2 separate regions of the Homo sapiens genome follow, and region 1 is linked to region 2. Evidence: fine-mapped expression QTL. Tissue or cell type: stomach. Region 2 holds a variant in brackets; the other region holds the start of a gene. All regions are shown on one strand. Distances are between the middles of the regions. Region 1 holds the start of GPR160 (G protein-coupled receptor 160). Region 2 has its middle 25 kb from the start of GPR160.

Region 1 (8,840 bases), 26 kb before region 2:
ACCTGAGGTCGAGAGTTCCGAGACCAGCCTGGCCAACATGGTGAAACCTTGTCTCTACTAAATATACAAAAATTAGCCAGGCATGGTGTCTGGCACCTGTAATCCCAGCTACGTGGAAGGCTGAGGCAGGAGAACTGCTTGAACCCAGGAGGCAGAGGTTGCAGTGAGCTGAGATCACACCATTGCACTCCAGCCTGGGCAACAAAGCAAAAACTCTGTCTCAAAACAAAACAAAACAAAAAACAAAAATGTGTGTGAATGTCTGTAATCCCAGCACTTTGGGAGGCTGAGGCGGGCAGATCACGAGGTCAGTAGATCGAGACCATCCTGGCTAACATGGCGAAACCCCGTCTCTACTAAAAATATAAAAAATTAGCTGGGCGTGGTGGTGGGCACCTGTAGTCCCAGCTACTGGGGAGGCTGAGGCAGGAGAATGGCATGAATCCGGGAGGCAGAGCTTGCAGTGAGCTGAGATTGCACCATTGCACTCCAGCCTGGGTGGCAGAGCGAGACTCCATCTCAAAAAAAAAAAAAAAGTGTGTGAAGACTACCAGAAGACTACCATGAATTCTTTTTTTTTTTTTTTTTTTTTAAGAGAGAGAGTCTTGCCCTATCGTCCAGGCTGGTGTGCAATGGTGCAAACATAGCTTACTGCAGCCTAGAACTGCTGGGCTCAAGCCACCCTCCCCACCTCAGCCACCACCACACTGGCCAATTTTATTATTATTATTATTATTTATTTATTTTTTTTTTTTGTAGAGATGGGGGCCTCACTATGTTGCCCAGGCTGGTCTTGAACTCTTGGCCTCAAGCAAACCTTCCTCCCCTCAGCCTCCCAAAGAGCTGGGATTACAGATGCGAGCCACCACACCCAGCCCATGAACTCTTTTCTTTGGCCAATGAACTCTTGATAAATGTTAAATTTCCTTCCCTGTCTCCCTAAAGATGTGATTTAAAGCAATCTTCTTTAGATTTCTTTCTTTCTTTTTTTTTTTTTTTTGAGGCAGTATCTTGCTCTGTCACCCAGGCTGGAGTACAGTGGTATGATCACGGCTCACTGCAGCCTCAACCTCCCAGGCTCAAGCAATCCTCCCACCTCAACCTCCTGAGTAGCTGGGACTACAGGCGTGCACCACCATACCTGGCTAATTTTTATTTATTTATCTTTATTTTTTGTGGAGTCAAGGTCTCACTATGTTGCCCAGGCTGATTTCCTTATATTTCAATGTTCCCATCTGTTAAAAACCAAAATTGCCCTCTATCACCACTGCTTCGCCTCACAGGATGGGATGAGGTGATGCAGATGAAAGCGAAGTGTTTATGAATCTAGGAGAATACTGTTGACTAGATTGCCAACACTCTTTCCTATCATTTCTAGCCCAACAAGGGAGCCATTTGCTTTTCTAATGCGTTCATACCCTTAATAATGTGAATCAGGGCGAAATGGTGTCACATTTGTGGTAAGTCCTTAAAATGGCTATTAGCAATCAACTCTCCAGAGTCCAAATCTACCACTCTCCTACAGAGGAGAGTAAACATTAGTTTGGTCACTAAAGGGCCTGGCAAGTTTCTTTTCTCTTTCCATGCTTTTAGGGAACTAGAGAGGAAACTGAGGTATAAAATAAAGTTACGTGACGGTTGCATACTTCTTTCATTCATACCAAGAAAACAGAGCCACAAACCAAACAATTTCACTTCATTTAAGAACCATCATGAATTCACTGTGGTATCTCCCCCCACTGTAAGGGGATTTTTGTTGGTTGTCTCATTATTTTCCCATCACAGCAGTGAAATTAGGACATGCTTCAGCATTCCTCAACCGAATCTTAAAACATCTTTACGGCCGGGCGCGATGGCTCACGCCTGTAATCCCAACACTTTGGGAGGCTGAGGCGGGCAGATCACGAGGTCAACAGATGGAGACCACGGTGAAACCCCGTCTCTACTAAAAATTAGCCGGGCGTGGTGGCGGGCGCCTGTAGTCCCAGCTGCTCGGGAGGCTGAGGCAGGAGAATGGCGTGAACCCGGGAGGTGGAGCTTGCAGTGAGCCGAGATCACGCCACTGCACTCCAGCCTGGGTGACAGAGCAAGACTCCGTCTCAAAAAAAAAAAAAAAAAAAAATCTTTACATCCTTTAGACTAGTGAATCTACACGAGCAAGGTCTACGCCGGGGAGATTCACCGAACACTTCAACTTTTAACTGTCCCAGATCTCATCTCTTTGACTTGTTTTATCTTTAAATCAAAAGGCATTACATTCAGTTATACTGAAGCGACTAAAAAATGTGGATTTACCTTTTGGAAATATACCTCCCCTTCCTCCCTCTACTAACTTCAACAGCTCCCTCTCAGAATCACTATTCCAAAGTACTGACCAAGCATGACAGAATGAGTAGGAATTATAGGCTAAATCTGGAGAAAAGAAATCTGGAGCAAGCCTGATGAAGATATAGCTATTACTCCTTCCTTACCCTCTTTCAAGCATGATTCTTAAAAAAAATGTGTTACCACCATGCAGAACTTTTAGGAGTCAGTGCTTTGCTAAATATTTACATGTCATGATCGCTGAAGCAAACAAGATAAAGATGAAATAGGCAACACAACACAGCTAAGCTCTCTCTCAAGCAATAAGCAGCCCTCTACTCATCTTGTGCTTTGTTTTCATCATATACACTTTTTACTGAGGCATGCAATGCTTTCAGAAGTGTACATAAATCCTAAGTGCATACCGACACGTGTGTTCACTACTGCAAACTCTGTTTTTTGATGAACACAACTTGGAAGGGATTTGGGCAATTAGGAAAAACTGCTAACACGTTTTATACAATCCGCCCGACCGGAGGCAATCAACCCCCAGGCTTGCTAATGCCCTTTGTGTAAAAAAAGCTGACCTAGCCTCCACCTGCATCAACTTGATCCGCTCAGCTTTGTCACACTCAGCAAACACCCTCTGCCTTCTGAGCAAAATAAATCGGCACCTCCAGTAGGGAGAAAAAAACTTTTTATGACCGAGTCTGGAGAAGCAGCCTTGACACCCAATTTACAAAGAACGAGCGTCTGCGGAAGACCTTGCATCTAGACTCGGCTGCAGTGCCAAACCTACCTTATGCAAAAAAGCTCCACAAGTGGTGGTGTTCTGTTTAAAGGAAAATGCCAAACACACACAAATACTGAAACAATAGCATAAGGACTTCCATAACCATCATCCAGCTTCAACTATTTTTATTTTTGTTTTACTTTAAGTTCTGGGATACAGGTGCTGAATGTGCAGGTTTGTTAATAGGTATACATGTGCCATGGTGTTTTGCTGCACCTATCAACCCGTCATCTAGGTTTTAAGCCCTGCATGCATTAGGTATTTGTCCTAGTGCTCTCCCTCCCCTTTCCCCCCACCCTCCGACAGGCCCCCGTGCCTGAAGTTCCCCTGCCTGTGTCCATGTGTTCTTCCCAGCTTCAACTATTAACAATCCATGAACAATCTCCTCTCATCTTGTTCCCCTCCCTTCTCTGCTAGCATCTAAAACTGAATAATTCTGAAGCAAATCCCAAAGCTGTATTTCAACTTCAGTCTGTGTCTCTACAGGGATTTTAAAAACCTTAATCAGGATACCGTTACCAAAAGTAACTAAACAGAACTATTATAATTTCCTTGATACCATCAAATAATCAGTAGAAATGTCCTTCATCGTCTCCTTATTTATTTATTTATTTTGAGACGGAGTCTCGCTCTGCCTCCCAGGCTGGAGTGCAGTGGCGCCATCTCGGCTTACTGCAACCTCCGCCTCCCGGGTTCAAGCGATTCTCCTACCTCAGCCTTCCCGAGTAGCCGGGATTACAGGCGCGTGTCACCACACCCAGCTAATTTTTGTATTTTTAGTAGAGAAGGGTTTCACCATGTTGGCCAGGCTGGTCTCGAACCCCTGACCTCAGGTGATCCACCCACCTCGGCCTCCCAAAGTGCTGGGATTACAGGTGTGAGCCACCGCACTCGGGCATCATCTCCATTTTAAAAAACATTCATCAAATCAGGATCCAACCAACGTCCACACCTTGTATTGCCACCGAATTTCTCTTAAATCGTTTTGAAACTGCACACAGGTCCTCCTCCCTGCAATTCGCATAGCAACCAAGCTGATCCTCACTGACAATTTCCAAATAACTATAATAACTCTATTCTGGAGATATCACAAGTGCCGGTCTTAGAGCTTGTCAAATGTATACATATATGTTTATATTTATATATAAATGCACAAAAGCACACAAGAAACCATTTCACTCGAAGCAATAACAATCCTGAGAGCTAAACACTCGTTCATGTCTTTTGTGATGCTTCTCGGTGGGGGTTATCTCTGGGATTTAAGCGACACTTCCCCTTACCGGAGACATTTGCGCAAGTGTAGGACGAAGCGAGAGCGGTTCCTTCCAGCCGAACCTGCCTCCGGAGGCCCGGTCCGTGCGTTCGTCTCCGGACTGCAGGGGGCGGCCCTGCCACCACCTCGAGGCCACCTGCGCAGGTGAGAAAAGGAGTTTCAGTCTCCGGGTTCCTGGGGGTGGTCGCAGGTAATCTAGAGGGAATTTTGAGCCAGCCAGGATGGTCATCCAGGAACCTACCCGGACGCAACGGCCTCGGAAAACAAATAGCCGGGCAAGGCCCTGGGGCTTAATCCCAGTGGCGGGCGCGGGCGGGGGCGCCGTCCCCAACGCTCGAGGCCAGGGGAGGGGAGGCAAAGTCGGCCCCAATGAATGCACGCACGCGCGCGCGCGCGCGTGTGTGTGAGACTATTCACCTCTGGGCGCCAGGAAAGAGCGAAGAGTTGCATACACCCATTTCTATAACCTTGCTGGGTTTGTCATGTTTAAAAAGCATCTCCCCTGGAGAGAGGGTGGCGAGTCTCTGGGTGCGGGACACGCCCATTCCCCAGACCCCCTGCCCTCAAACCCACGACAGACCCCAGTTGCTAAGGCTCCGCGGTAATCCCCATCCCGAAGCAGGAAGGCTCGGGCGTCCGGGCTCCACTCCTGGATCTCTTAAGTAGCAGAGAACCCCCAGCCCCTGAGTTCCTGCAAAGGAAATTCCTTCCCCTCCCAGGCGCGCTGAACGCCCGGCCAGGGAGGCTGGGAGCGGCGCGGGGACCGTTCGCCGCCCCGAGGCTGGGACGCCGGTGGCGAGAGCGCCGGGCGCCCTCCACCTGCGCCCGCACTCACCCGAGGATCGATGGCTGTCGGCTCCGCAAGGTTGAGGCCCCGACACCTGCAGCGCCCGTGCCCAGGTGACCGCCCGAGGGAGGGGCGAGGGCCCAGCTCGCCCGCCTGGTCCCGCCCCGCCCCGCCCCGCCCCGCGCGCTCCCGGGAGGGGCAGGGGAGCACGGCCCCGGGACCCCGCGGCGACCCTGCTGTGGCTCAGCCGGCTCCAGACCAGGAAATGCGGGCGTCAGAGACGGGCAACCTTTGAGCGCGCACGTCCCGTCCGGGCCCAACGAAACAAGGGCCGGAGGGCGCCGCCTGCCGGCGGGACGGAAAGATATCACAGAGACTGTCACCCCCCGCCGGCTAGGAGAGGGCTGAGTTGAGGCTGGCAGAGGGACGCAGCCAGGGGTGCGCAGTGCGGGAGCCGCTTGGGGGCTCAGTGAGACCCCCTTCCTCATGCCACATCTTGAGGACCCGGCCCCTGTCCTAGGAGCTCCCCATCTCCCCAGCAGGCGGGCGAGCGGGGGCCACTGGGTCAGGGCCTCTCCTTCCCTTACCTCTGCAAATGTAAACTTGGCAGTTGTCTCCAGATAAGAGTTTACACAGGGTGGCCAGGCGGTGGCTCATGCCTGTAATCCTAGCACTTTGGGAGGTCAAGGTGGGCGGATCACTTGAGGTCAGGAGTTTGAGACCAGCCTGGCCAACATGGTCCACGTTGGTCCCCATGTCTACTAAAAATACAAAAATTAGCCGGGCTTGGTGGCACGCACCTGTAATCCCAGCTATTTGGGAAGCTGAGGCACGAGAATCGCTTGAACCCAGGAGGCGGAGGTTGCAGTGAGCTAAGACCGCACCACTGCACTCCAGCCTGGGCAGCAACAGCAAGACTCCGTATCAAAAAAAAAAAAAAAAAAAAAAAAAAAAAAAAAAAAGAGTATACACAGGGTGACAGAACTTCTTGAAACTTGTATGCTTCTAAGCAACCGCCTGCAGTGTACTGTGAATTCAGATTTTTAAATAAAAATCTGCAAATATTAAATAGCCCATATATTGCATTGCCTTTTTTGTGTCAACAGTGCTAATTTGTTGTCATTCAACAAATATTTGTTGAGCACCTACGACTTGCCGGTCATTTAAACATTTAAAATATCGAACAATTAGGCCAGCGCAGTGGCTCAAGCCTGTAATCCCAGCACTTTGGGAGGCCGAGGCGGGTGGATCACTTGAGGTCACGAGTTCAAGACCAGCCTGGCCAACATGGTGAAACCCTGCCTCTACTAAAAATACAAAAATTAGTTGGGCGTAATGGCACATGCCTGTAGTCCCAGCTACTTGGGAGGCTGAGGCAGGAGAATGACTTGAACCCAGGAGGCAGAGGTTGCAGTGAACCAAGATCACGCCATTACACTCCAGCCTGGGCAACAGAGACAGACTTCATCTGAAACAAATAAAATAAAATAAAATATTGCACAATTTCTTCCTTCTCCTCTTCACGCAGAGCCTTGAACAAGGGGAGTGTCCTGAGCCTCTCAACCTCTCTGAGTGTCATAGCAGTTAGAGATTAAAGATGACCATGTCCATACACGTTTGTATCTCTCCACAATGTCAGTCTTTTTTTTTTTTTAAATGCTATTTCAATCACAAAATCCAGGAGCTACATGGAGTTCCCAAGGAGGCAATTCTCCTTAGTCCTTCCCATTCACTCTGTAGTCAGAGCACATAGGTTCAAGCCACTCCATAAGTCAGTAAATATTGCAAACCATACATACTAGTATACTTAATCACTATACGAATGTTGTAGATTAAACATTCCACAACAAAGTAATATTTAACATCAAGACGAAGAAGAGGAGAAAGGGTTAATGAACCAGTCCAAAGGGAGGGAAGAAGACAAAGGGAGTCCTGGTCTGGGCCTGGTGGTCTTGCAAGGAAGAGTCTTTGATGTGGCAGAGCTTTCGGTGGCAAATTCTGAGTTCTTATCATGAGTGACTGCAAGACGGTGTTAGTGAAGACAGCCAAGCTGAAGGCTTCGCTCTTTTACAGTCAGAGGGTCCTCTGGTGAGAACTTATAGTGGATGAGTGTGCTTGTTTGTGTTCTTTTTTAAAATTTGTTCGTCAAGCAAAACATCTTATCCTTGTTAGCAAAGTGCCCATGAAATATAAAATGGAGGGTTTTTCTAAGATGGAATTAGTTACCTCAAGGGTGGTTTATACACTGAGAGTCTGGACTAGCCTTGCAAGGAACTCAGTAATTGCCCAAGGGTGCAAGAAGAACCCTGATAGAATTAAGTGTGGGTTGCTAGGGAGACTGAGGAGCAGCTTCACCTGGCCTGGAGTGGCAGAGAGAACTTCCTGGAGAAGTGCAGAGGCCAACTGAATCACAGAGGAGTACCGGGTTCAACGGGATGTGAGGTGCTTCCGCCAAGATTCCAACGTGTGCAAAGTGGGAAGTGGAAAGCCAGGCAGAGAGTTCATGTTCTAATAAGGGAATGGCAAGTGGGTCAGAAGACCTGAGAGGGAGAGGATGGGAGTTGAGTTAGAGCAGAGGGCATGGGGGCCAAATCATACTCATAACAAAAATAACCATCATCTAGGGAGTGGATAGTATAGAACAGGAGCTGGACATACATAACTTCAAACGAGCCTCACGCCAACCCTGCAAGGTAGGGTTATTACTCTCCTTTATAGAAGAGGAAAATGAGAGCCGGGCACAGTGGCTCACACCTGTAATCTCAGCACTTTGGGAGGCTGAGGTGGGCAGACTGCATGAGGTCAGAAGTTTGAGACCAGCCTGGCCAACATGGTGAAACCCCGTCTCTACTAAAAATACAAAAATTAGCCAGGCATGGTGGCGGGCGCCTGTAATCCCAGCTACTCAGGAAGCTGAGGCAGGAGAATCACTTGAACCTGGGAAGCGGAGGTTGCAGTGAGCTGAGATCACACCATTGCACTCCAGCCTGGGCGACAAGAGCGAGACTCTGTCTCAAAAAAAAAAAAAAAAAAAAAAAAGAAGAGGAAAATGAGACTGAGACCCAGGAAGGAGAGACATATTGCTAGTGACAAGGCTGGGGTAGGGTAGCTCTGAGCAGCCAGGCTGCCCTGTCAATGCCTCTCTCCAGGCGGATCTGGGAGGCTGGATTTATCTTCAAATACTTTCAGCATCCCCAAGTGCCTGCCACTCTCCCACCATTTCTTAAGCCGATGTCAACAACTGCCCTGAAGTCTCTCTGTCTAGAGATGATGTGTACATGGGTCCGCATACCAGACTCCTCCTGAGGGGAACTCTGTCTCAGGGGCTGGTGGAGGAACTGTGGCAGACAGAGACCTTGGTTGCTCCCCACTGTCCATTCTTTCCTTCTTCTGTAATAAAGTCATGTGCTGCAATGACATTCTGGTTAACAATGGATCACATCTACAACAGTGGCCTCACAAGGTTAGAATGGAGCTGACAAATTCCTATCACCTAGTGATATCTTGATGATACTGACCCTGTGTAGGCCTGCACCTTTGTTTTTAAGAAAAAAAGTTTAAAAGGTAAATAAATGCATTTTCAAAATGGGAAAAATAAGCTTATAGAATAAGAATAGAAGAAAATATTTTTGTACAGCTGAAACGTATTTGTGTTTTAAGGCGTATTATTACAAAAGAGTCAA
Region 2 (8,840 bases):
CACTCCAGCCTGGACAACAGAGTGAGACTCCGTCTTTTTTTTTTTTTTTTTTTTTGAGGTGGAGTCTCACTCTGACGCCCAGGCTGGAGTACAGTGGCGCTATCTCGGCTCACTGCAAGCTCCGCTTCCCGGGTTCACGCCATTCTCCCGCCTCAGCCTCTCAAGTAGCTGGGATTACAGGCATGTGCCACAATGCCCGGCTAATTTTGTGTTTTTAGTAGAGACAGGGTTTCTCCATGTTGGTCAGGCTGGTCTCGAACTCCCAGCCTCAGGTAATCTGCCTGCCTCGGCCTCCCAAAGTGCTGGGATTACAGGCGTGAGCCACGCCCGGCCCAAGACTCCATCTCAAAAAAAAAGCAGACTCTATATGAGTTTAGAATATATTCCTAAGGCAATCCTGTTGTCTCTACACTTGACACGGAACTATCGAGACATATGATACTGTGGCACGTGACACAGAACTATCAAGGGATCGGCACGGGTTGGTGTAGTTTAACCCAGAGATTCAATTCAAATGATGTCCCCAGAATTTGGCTTCTCTCAATCTCTCTTCTCTGTCCTTCTTCATGTTGGCTTCATTCTCAGGCTTCACGTGGTGGTAGCCTATCTGGACTTATAGCTTCCACACAGGTTCTGGAATTTACTATGATTAGACTCATTTGGGAATGACTTAAATAAGGAGTGACATTGAGCTGGAACTTAAAGGAAGAATGAGATTTGTGAATGGTTGCCCAAAAATAGCCTGAGCAAAGGCATAAGGATATGTGAGAGCTTGGAATGTTTGGGGAAGTCCAAAATTCTAACTCTTCAGAGGTATGTGTGGTGGGCATTGGAGGAGGTGAATAGTGAAGTGGCCAATTTTTATCCAGAATTTTAGATGGCATCCCTACCCAATCTACATAATTTTGGCGAACATCATTCCTCCTACTCTCTCTACTTGCTAAGGAATGACATAGATTGCCAGAAAACAACTACCAGAAGCTAAATGAGAGACATGGAACAGTTCCTTCCCTCACAGCCCTCAGAAGAAACCAACTCTACTGATGTCTTAATTTCACACTTCCAGCTTCCAGAACTGTGAGACAATACCTTTCTGTGGTTTAAGCCACCTAGTCTGTATTACTTTGTTATAGCAGTCTTAGCAAACTAGTATGGAAGGGAGAGCACAGATAAAAGATGTGTTATCAATCAAGTCACCAGTGTGAGCAAATAGATCCTAATCCCACTGGAGAACTCTGGCAGACAGTGTAGAATGTACAACTCAAAATTATCCTGCCAGACAGACCCCAACAGTAATGGGTAAAGATTTGAATAGATATTTTTCCCAAGAAGATATACAAATGGCCAGTAAGTACAAGAAAAGATGTTCAACATCATTCATCATTAGGGAAACACAAATCAAAACCACAATGAGATATGTCACACCCACCAGGATAACCACAATTAAAAAGACGATAATAACAAATGTTAGTGAGAATGTGAAGGAATTAGAACTCTCATTCATTGCTGGTATGAATGAAAACTGGCATAACTGCCTTGGAAAACAGTTTTCCAGTTCTTAAAAAGTTAAACATAGAGTTATCCTATGACCCAGAAACTCCACTCCCAGTTGTTACATACCCAAGAAGATTGAAAAAAATATTCGCATGAAACTCGTACATGAATATTCACAGCAGCATTATTCAGAATAGCCAAAAGCGGAAAAAAAATCCAAGTGTCCATCAACTGATGAGTGGTTAAACAAAATGTGGTATATCCATGCAATGAAATAGATTTCAGCAATAAAAAGAAATAGATTATTGATATATGGTACAACATGAATAAATCTTGAAAACATTATGTTAAGTGACAGAAGCCAGTCATAAAAGCCCACATATTATATGACTCCATACAATATGTTTTATATAAAATTTATATAAAATTTCCAGAATAGGCAAATCCATAGAGATGGAAAATAGATTAATGTTTGCTAGCAGCTGGTGGGAGGGTGGAATGGGGAATTACTGCTAATAAGTACAGAATTTTTGTTTGGAGTGATGAAAATGAACTGAAATTAAACAGTGGTGATGGTTGCGCAGCTATTTTTAGTTAATATACTAAAAACCACTGAATTGTACACCTTAAAAGTATGAGCTTTATGGTATGTGAATTATATCTTAATAAAAATAAGAGGGACAAAATATTTTTAAAAAATTTTTATCCTGCCTGGGGGTGGAGGGAGCTGGAGTATTTATCTACCATCTTCTAACCATCATTGGTTTGAAGAATGCTCTGGGGATATATTTGATTCCCTGGAGCTTGTGGCCTGATTTGTGTAAAGATTTCAGAACCAGAGAGAGCCTTCAGGCAAAGATGTGCGAGTGTTGACACTTGGAAGTTGGGCACATGTATTTTTAGGAGCTATCCTTTCCAAAAGTGTAGAAAGTTCTCTATGGCTTATGGGCAAGTGTCCTTGCCTTCTGGGCTTATACAATACTGACTTCTTGTTGGTCTGTCTTCATATAAGTCAAAAGTAATCCCTAAACTTGAAAGTTGAAGGATTATATATGAGGGCTTTCCATGAAACATTTATTATTCAATTGATTTTGAGATTAGCCACAGTTATCTTAGCTGCAAATGGTGGAAATCAACCCTGACTAGAATGACCATACAGTTATGCATCGCTTAACGATGGGGATACATTGAGAAAAATGAGTCATTTGGTGATTTTGTCTTGTGAACATTATCAAGTGCACTTACACAAACCTACTGTAACCTACTACACACCTAGGCTATACGGTAGAGCCTATTGCTTTTAGGCTACAAGCCTGTACCTCATGTTACTGTACTGAATACCATAGGCAATTGTAACACAATGGTCAGTATTTGTGGGTCTAGACATAGAAGAGATACAATAAAAATATGGTATAAAAGATAAAAAATAGTACACTTATATGGGGCACTTGCCGTGAATGGAGCCTGCAGGACTGGAAGTTGCTGTGGGTATCAGTGAGTGAGCGGTGAGTGAATGTGAAGGCCTAGGACATCACCGTACACTACTCCTGTAGACGTTATAAACACTGTACATTTAGGCTATATTAAATTTATAAAGAACTATCTTTGTTCAATAATGAATTAACCTTAGCTTACTGTAGCTTTTATTTTATAAACTTAAAAAATTTTTAAGTGTTTTTGACTCTTGTAATAACACTTAGCTTAAGACACAAAGACATTGTACTATCGTACAAAAATATTTTCTTTTTTTTTTTGAGATGGAGTCTCTCTCTCTGTCACCCAGGCTGGAGTGCAGAAGCATGATCTTGGCTCACTACGACCTCCACCTCCCAGGTTCAAGCGATTCTCTTGCCTCAGCCTCCCAAGTAGCTGGGATTACAGACGTGCACCACCACGCCTGGCTAATTTTTGTATTTTTAGTACAGTCGGGGTTTCACCATGTTGGTCAGGCTGGTCTTGAACTCCTGACCTTGTGATCCGCCTGCCTCGGCCTCCCAAAGTGCTGGGATTACAGGCGTGAGCCACTGCCCCCGGCCTATTTTCTTTCTTTATATCCTTATTCTGTAAGCTTTTTTCTCTTTTTATTTTCAATTGTTTAAACTTTTAAAGTTTTTTTGTTAAAAA[C/T]AAAGACACAAACGCACACATTAGCCTAGGCCTACCCAGGGCCGGGATCATCAGTGTCACTGTCTTCCACCTCCACATCTTGTCCCACTGGAAGGTCTTCAGGGGCAAAAACATCCATGGAGCTGTCATCTCCCATGATAAGAATGACTTCTTCCGGAATACCTCCTGTAGGACCTGCCTGAGGCTGTTCCACAGTTAATTTTAAAAAATATATAAGTAGCAGGAGTACAGTCTAAAATAATGATAAAAAGTATAGGATAGCAAATACATAAACCAGAAACATAGTCATTTATTATCAAGTGTTATGTACTATACATAATTTATGTGTTACACTTTTTTTTTTTTGAGACAGAGTCTCTCTCTGTTGCCCAGATTGGAGTGCAGTGGCGCCATCTTGGCTCACTGCAACCTCCGCCTCCTGGGTTCAAGCAGTTCTCCCTGCTTCAGCCTCCCGAGTAACTGGGATTACAGGGGCCCACCACCATGCCAGGCTAATTTTTGTAGGTTAGTAGAGACGGGGTTTCGCCATGTTGGTCCAGGCTGGTCTCGAACTCCTGACCTCAGGTGATCCGCCTGCCTCGGCCTCCCAAAGTGCTAGGATTACAGGTGTGAGCCACAGCGCTCAGCACGTGTTACACTTTTATATGACTGGGAGCACAGGTTTGTTTACACCAGCATCCCCACAAACACGTGAGTAATGTATTGCACTACCACATTATGATGGCTATGACATCACTAGGCAATAGGAAATTTTCAGCTCCATTATAGTCTTATGGGACCACCATCATATGTGAGGTCCATCATTTACCAAAATGTCATTATGCAATGCATGACTATAATAAAAAAAGATGGTTAATAACAAGTGTTCATGAGGACATGGAGAAATTGGAACCCTCATTCATTGCTGTAAAAAGAAAATGAATTTATTGTAAAAGTTTCAGTGGCCCCAAGACTTACTGGAAAAGCTGGAGAATCAGGCTCAAACGGTGGGAAAGAACAGAGGAAACCACACTGTGAGAACCAAAGCCAAAGTCAGGACACAGGAGGTGTTGCCAGAACACTGGTGCTTCCTTCAGCAGTGCAGGCTTGAAATGGTTACCTTCTCACACAGCGGATGAAGCCAGCATTAGGCAGGATTTTTAATCCGGGGCTACCTAAATCCAAAGCCACACACTCTTTTCTGAGTTTTCAATTTCTTTATAAGTAAAATGAACACAGAAGGCAACTATGAATAATGATGCCACAAGGGATTTAGACAGCGTCCCTAAGTGCCAGATGCAATTTAAGAGGTATTATTATTACATACAGCCAGAATCTACAATCATATCTCTGTCTCAAACAACTAATAGCCGAGGTTGCCAGGCAATTATATTTGTCAGGCACGAGTCTACAGTGAGCAGGTAAATGATCTACACCCCAGACACAATAAAAGATTTAGTCCCTCCTCCCTTTTGTACTAATCTCCAGCTCAGATTTTCTGATCCTATTCTGTTTGCCTCCATTTCGAAAGCCCTTCCCTCATCCTGTATTTTTACCACCTGGTTCTATGTGTCACCAAATCTTCCTTATTTGCAGTCAGCTTTGTGAAAGAACTTTCAATGCTAGTTACTCTAGAACAACAACTCTCACACGTTTTGGGCTCAGGACCTTTTAACTACTTTTAAAAATTATTGAGAATGCCAAAGAGTCCTGTTGGTGTGGATTATTTGCTGCGGTTAGAAATTAAAACAGGCAGCTAAGCGTGGTGGCTCATGCCGGTAATCCTGGCACTTCGGGGGGCTGAGGTGGGCGGATCACGAGGTCAGGATTTCGAGACCAGCCTGACCAACATGATGAAACCCCATCTCTACTAAAAATACAAAAATTAACCTAGTGTGGTGGTACGTGGTGCCTATAATCCCAGCTACTCGGGAGGCTGAGGCAGGAGAATAGCTTGAGCCTGGGAGGCGGAGGTTTCAGTGAGCCGAGATCACGCCACTGCACTCCTGCCTGGGTGACAGAGAAAGACTCCGTCTCAAAAAAAAAAAAAAAAAAAAAAAAAGAAAAGAAATTAAAACAGGCAGTGGCTCACCCTGTAATCCCAGAGCTCTGGGAAGCTGAGGTGGGAGGATTGTTTGAGGCCAGGAGTTTGAGCCCAGCCTAGGCCACATAGCGAGACCCTGTTTCTACGAAAAATTTAATTAGCTGAGTGTGGTGGCACATGCCTGTAGTCCACGCTACTCAGGAAGCTGAGACAGGAGAATCCCTCGAGCCCAGGAGTTCGAGTTAGAGTGAACTATGATCATGCACTGTACTCCAGCCTGAGCAACAGAGTGAGACCTAGTCTCAAAATAAAAGAAAGATTAAAACATAAATTTTTAGAAACAATAATAAAAGAGGACACATTAACAGAAATAACATGTCTATGAAAAATAACTTTTTCAGAAAGAAAATGTTTGTGAGATGAGTGGCTGTTTTACATTTTTAACAAATCTGTTGAATATCTGGATGAATAGAAGAAAGCTAGATTCTCATGTCTGCCTCCGCATTCAATCTGTTCCCATATCACACTGGAAAACTCCACTTATGCTTGTGAGAGAATGAGAGTGAAAAGGCAACAACATCAGTATTATTACGAAAATATTTTGACCTTAAAGATATTCTGGAAAGAGACAATCAGGAAATCCCCCATCACAAGTTGAAAATTGATGCCATTTTTTTTTTTTTTTTGGAGATGGAGTCGTGCTCTGTTTCCCAAACTTGAGTGCAATGGTGTGATCTCAGCTCACTGCAACCTCTGCCTCCCTGGTTCAAGCAATCCTCCTGCCTCAGCCTCCTGAGTAGCTGGTCTTATAGGTACACGCCACCACGCCTAGCTAATCTTTTTATATTTTTTGTAGAGACAGGGTTTCATCATGTTGGCCAGACTGGTCTTGAACTCCTGACCTCAGGTGATCCGAGGCCACCTTGGCCTCCCAGAGTGCTGGGATTACAGGTGTGAGCCATGGCGCCTGGCCCCAATGCCATTTTTGATGCTCTTTTTCCCTTTGTGTGGATTCATTTTTCCATCTGTTAAGAAACTGTAGCCAGGTGTGCTGGCTCACACCTGTAATACTAGCACTTTGTGAGGCAAAGGTGGGAGGATTGCTTGAACCCAGGAGTTTGAGACCAGCCTGGGCAACATAAGGAGACCTCTTCTCCACACACACACAAAAATTTTAAATTAGCCAGGTGTGAGCAGGAGCGGTGGCTAACTCATTGTAGTCCCAGCACTTTGGGAGGCTGAGGTGGGCTGATCACCTGAGGTCAGGAGTTCAAGACCAGCTTGGCCAACATGGTGAAACACCGTCTCTACTAAAAATATAAAAATTAGCCAGGCGTGGTGGTGTGCACCTGCAATCCCAGCTACTAGGGAGGCTGAGGCAAGAGAATAGCTTGAGCCCCGGAGGTGGAGGTTGCAGTGAGCCTAGGTCGTGCCACTGTCCTCCAGCCTGGGCAACAGAGTGAGACTCTGTCTCAAAAAAATATTAGCCACATGTGATGGTGCACACCTGTGGTCCCAGCTACTCAGGAGGCTGAGTGGGAGAATTGCTTGAGCCTGGGAGGTTTCAGCTACAGTGAGCCATGATCGCACCACTGCACTTTAGCTTGGGTAACAGAGTGAGACCCTGTCTCAAAACAAAACAAAAAGCCATCAAACTGTCTTCCAAAGTGGCTATACTATTTTGTGTCTCCACTAGCAATAAATAAGAGTTCCTGCCGTTTCCCATCCTTTCCAGGATTTGGTGTTGTCAGTGCTTTGGATTTTGGCCATTCTAGGCAAGATGGGGAATGTTCAGGGTGGCATGGCCGTAGGTTATTTTGGCCATTCTAATAGGTATGTAGTGGTATCTCACTGTTTTAATTTGCAGTTCCTTAATGACATATGATGTAGAGCATCTTTTCATAGTTTTTTTTTCATCTGTGTGTCTTCTTTGTTGATGTATCTGTTCGTTTCTTTTGCCCATTTTTATATTGGGTTGTTTCATATCTTATTAAATTTTGTGAGTTCTATGTATATTTTAAATACAAATCCTTTATCAGAGAGGTGCTCAGCAAATATTTTCTCCTGGTCTGTGGCTTGTGTTTTCATACTCTTTTGCAGAGGATAAGAGTTTTTTGTTTGCTTGTTTTTGTTTTTTTGGTAGAGATTGGATCTTGTTATGTTGGCGAGGCTGGTGCCGAACTCCTAGTCTCAAGTGATCCTCTTGCTTCTGAGAGATCAAGTGCTGGGATTACAGGCATGAGCCACTACGATTAGTTATAAGTTTTTACTGTTAAGGAAGTCCAGCTTAACAATTTTTTCTTTTGTGGATTGTGCTTTTGTGTTGTATCTAAAATTCATTGCCAAATCGGAGGTTTAGGTTGGGTTTTTAGTTTTTATTTTTATTTTTGAGACGGAGTCTCGCTCTGTTGCCCAGACGGGAGTGCGGTGGCAAGATCTCGGCTCACTCCAAGCTCCGCCTCCCAGGTTCAAGCAATTCTTCCGCCTCAGCCTCCCAAGTAGCTGAGATTACAGGCATGTACCACCATGCCCGGCTAATTTTTGTATTTTTAGTAGAGATGGGTTTTCACCGTGTTGGATAGGCTGGTCTTGAATTCCTGACCTCAACTGATCTGCCCGCCTTGGCCTCCCAAAGTGCTGGGATAACAGGCGTGAGCCACCGTGCCCGGCCGAGCTTGGATTTTTAAAAAGCCACTGAATTGTGAGTGATTTGTTACACAGTATTGTTTTTACAAAGGCTAAAATTGATGTGTAATCCTTTAAATTTATTCAAAGCACAAAATTCGATTCAAATAATTTTTTTTCCACCCAAACATTTCTGGAAAGGCAGCTAATACATCTGCTTATTAGATTTCAAGGCAGTCACTTCAAGTCATCTTATTGTTTTAATTTATAGTTTTTGAAAATTAAAGGGGGTGAGAGAGATTTGAGACATTTGTTCTGATTTTCCCTCAGCTCTCCACTTCTGGAGATCCACTTTTCCAGTTGCTTTTAGCTGATAGTGACATTCTCCTGTTGCCTAAACCTGAATCTGCTGTTCCATCTTGGGAACAGTCCTTCAAGTTCCCAAGCTTCTGATTATTATCAGCTTTGAAGTTCTGCTGATTTCCTGCTGTTAACCCAAAGACAGATCCCTTTACACTTTCTCCATTCTACCTCCAAACAGGGCATTTGTCCTGAGATGTGACAGCACCTGCCT

Evidence for each region.
Region 1: it holds the start of GPR160, and the variant in region 2 is fine-mapped to the expression of GPR160 in stomach (GTEx, PIP above 0.99).

Annotation. Positions count from the first base shown.
Region 1 is chr3:170,034,581-170,043,420 of GRCh38, reverse strand. It overlaps GPR160 (G protein-coupled receptor 160), which reads right to left and starts at 5,426. Exons shown (of 4, transcript NM_014373.3): 1 at 5,206-5,426; 2 at 4,378-4,506. RefSeq lists silencers at 4,402-4,451, 4,612-4,661, 4,972-5,451 and an enhancer at 4,047-4,546.
Region 2 is chr3:170,009,074-170,017,913 of GRCh38, reverse strand. No RefSeq gene overlaps it. Among named protein-coding and RNA genes, the nearest start is that of GPR160, 25 kb to the left of the region's middle. The variant C/T (reference allele first, on the strand shown) is at 3,619.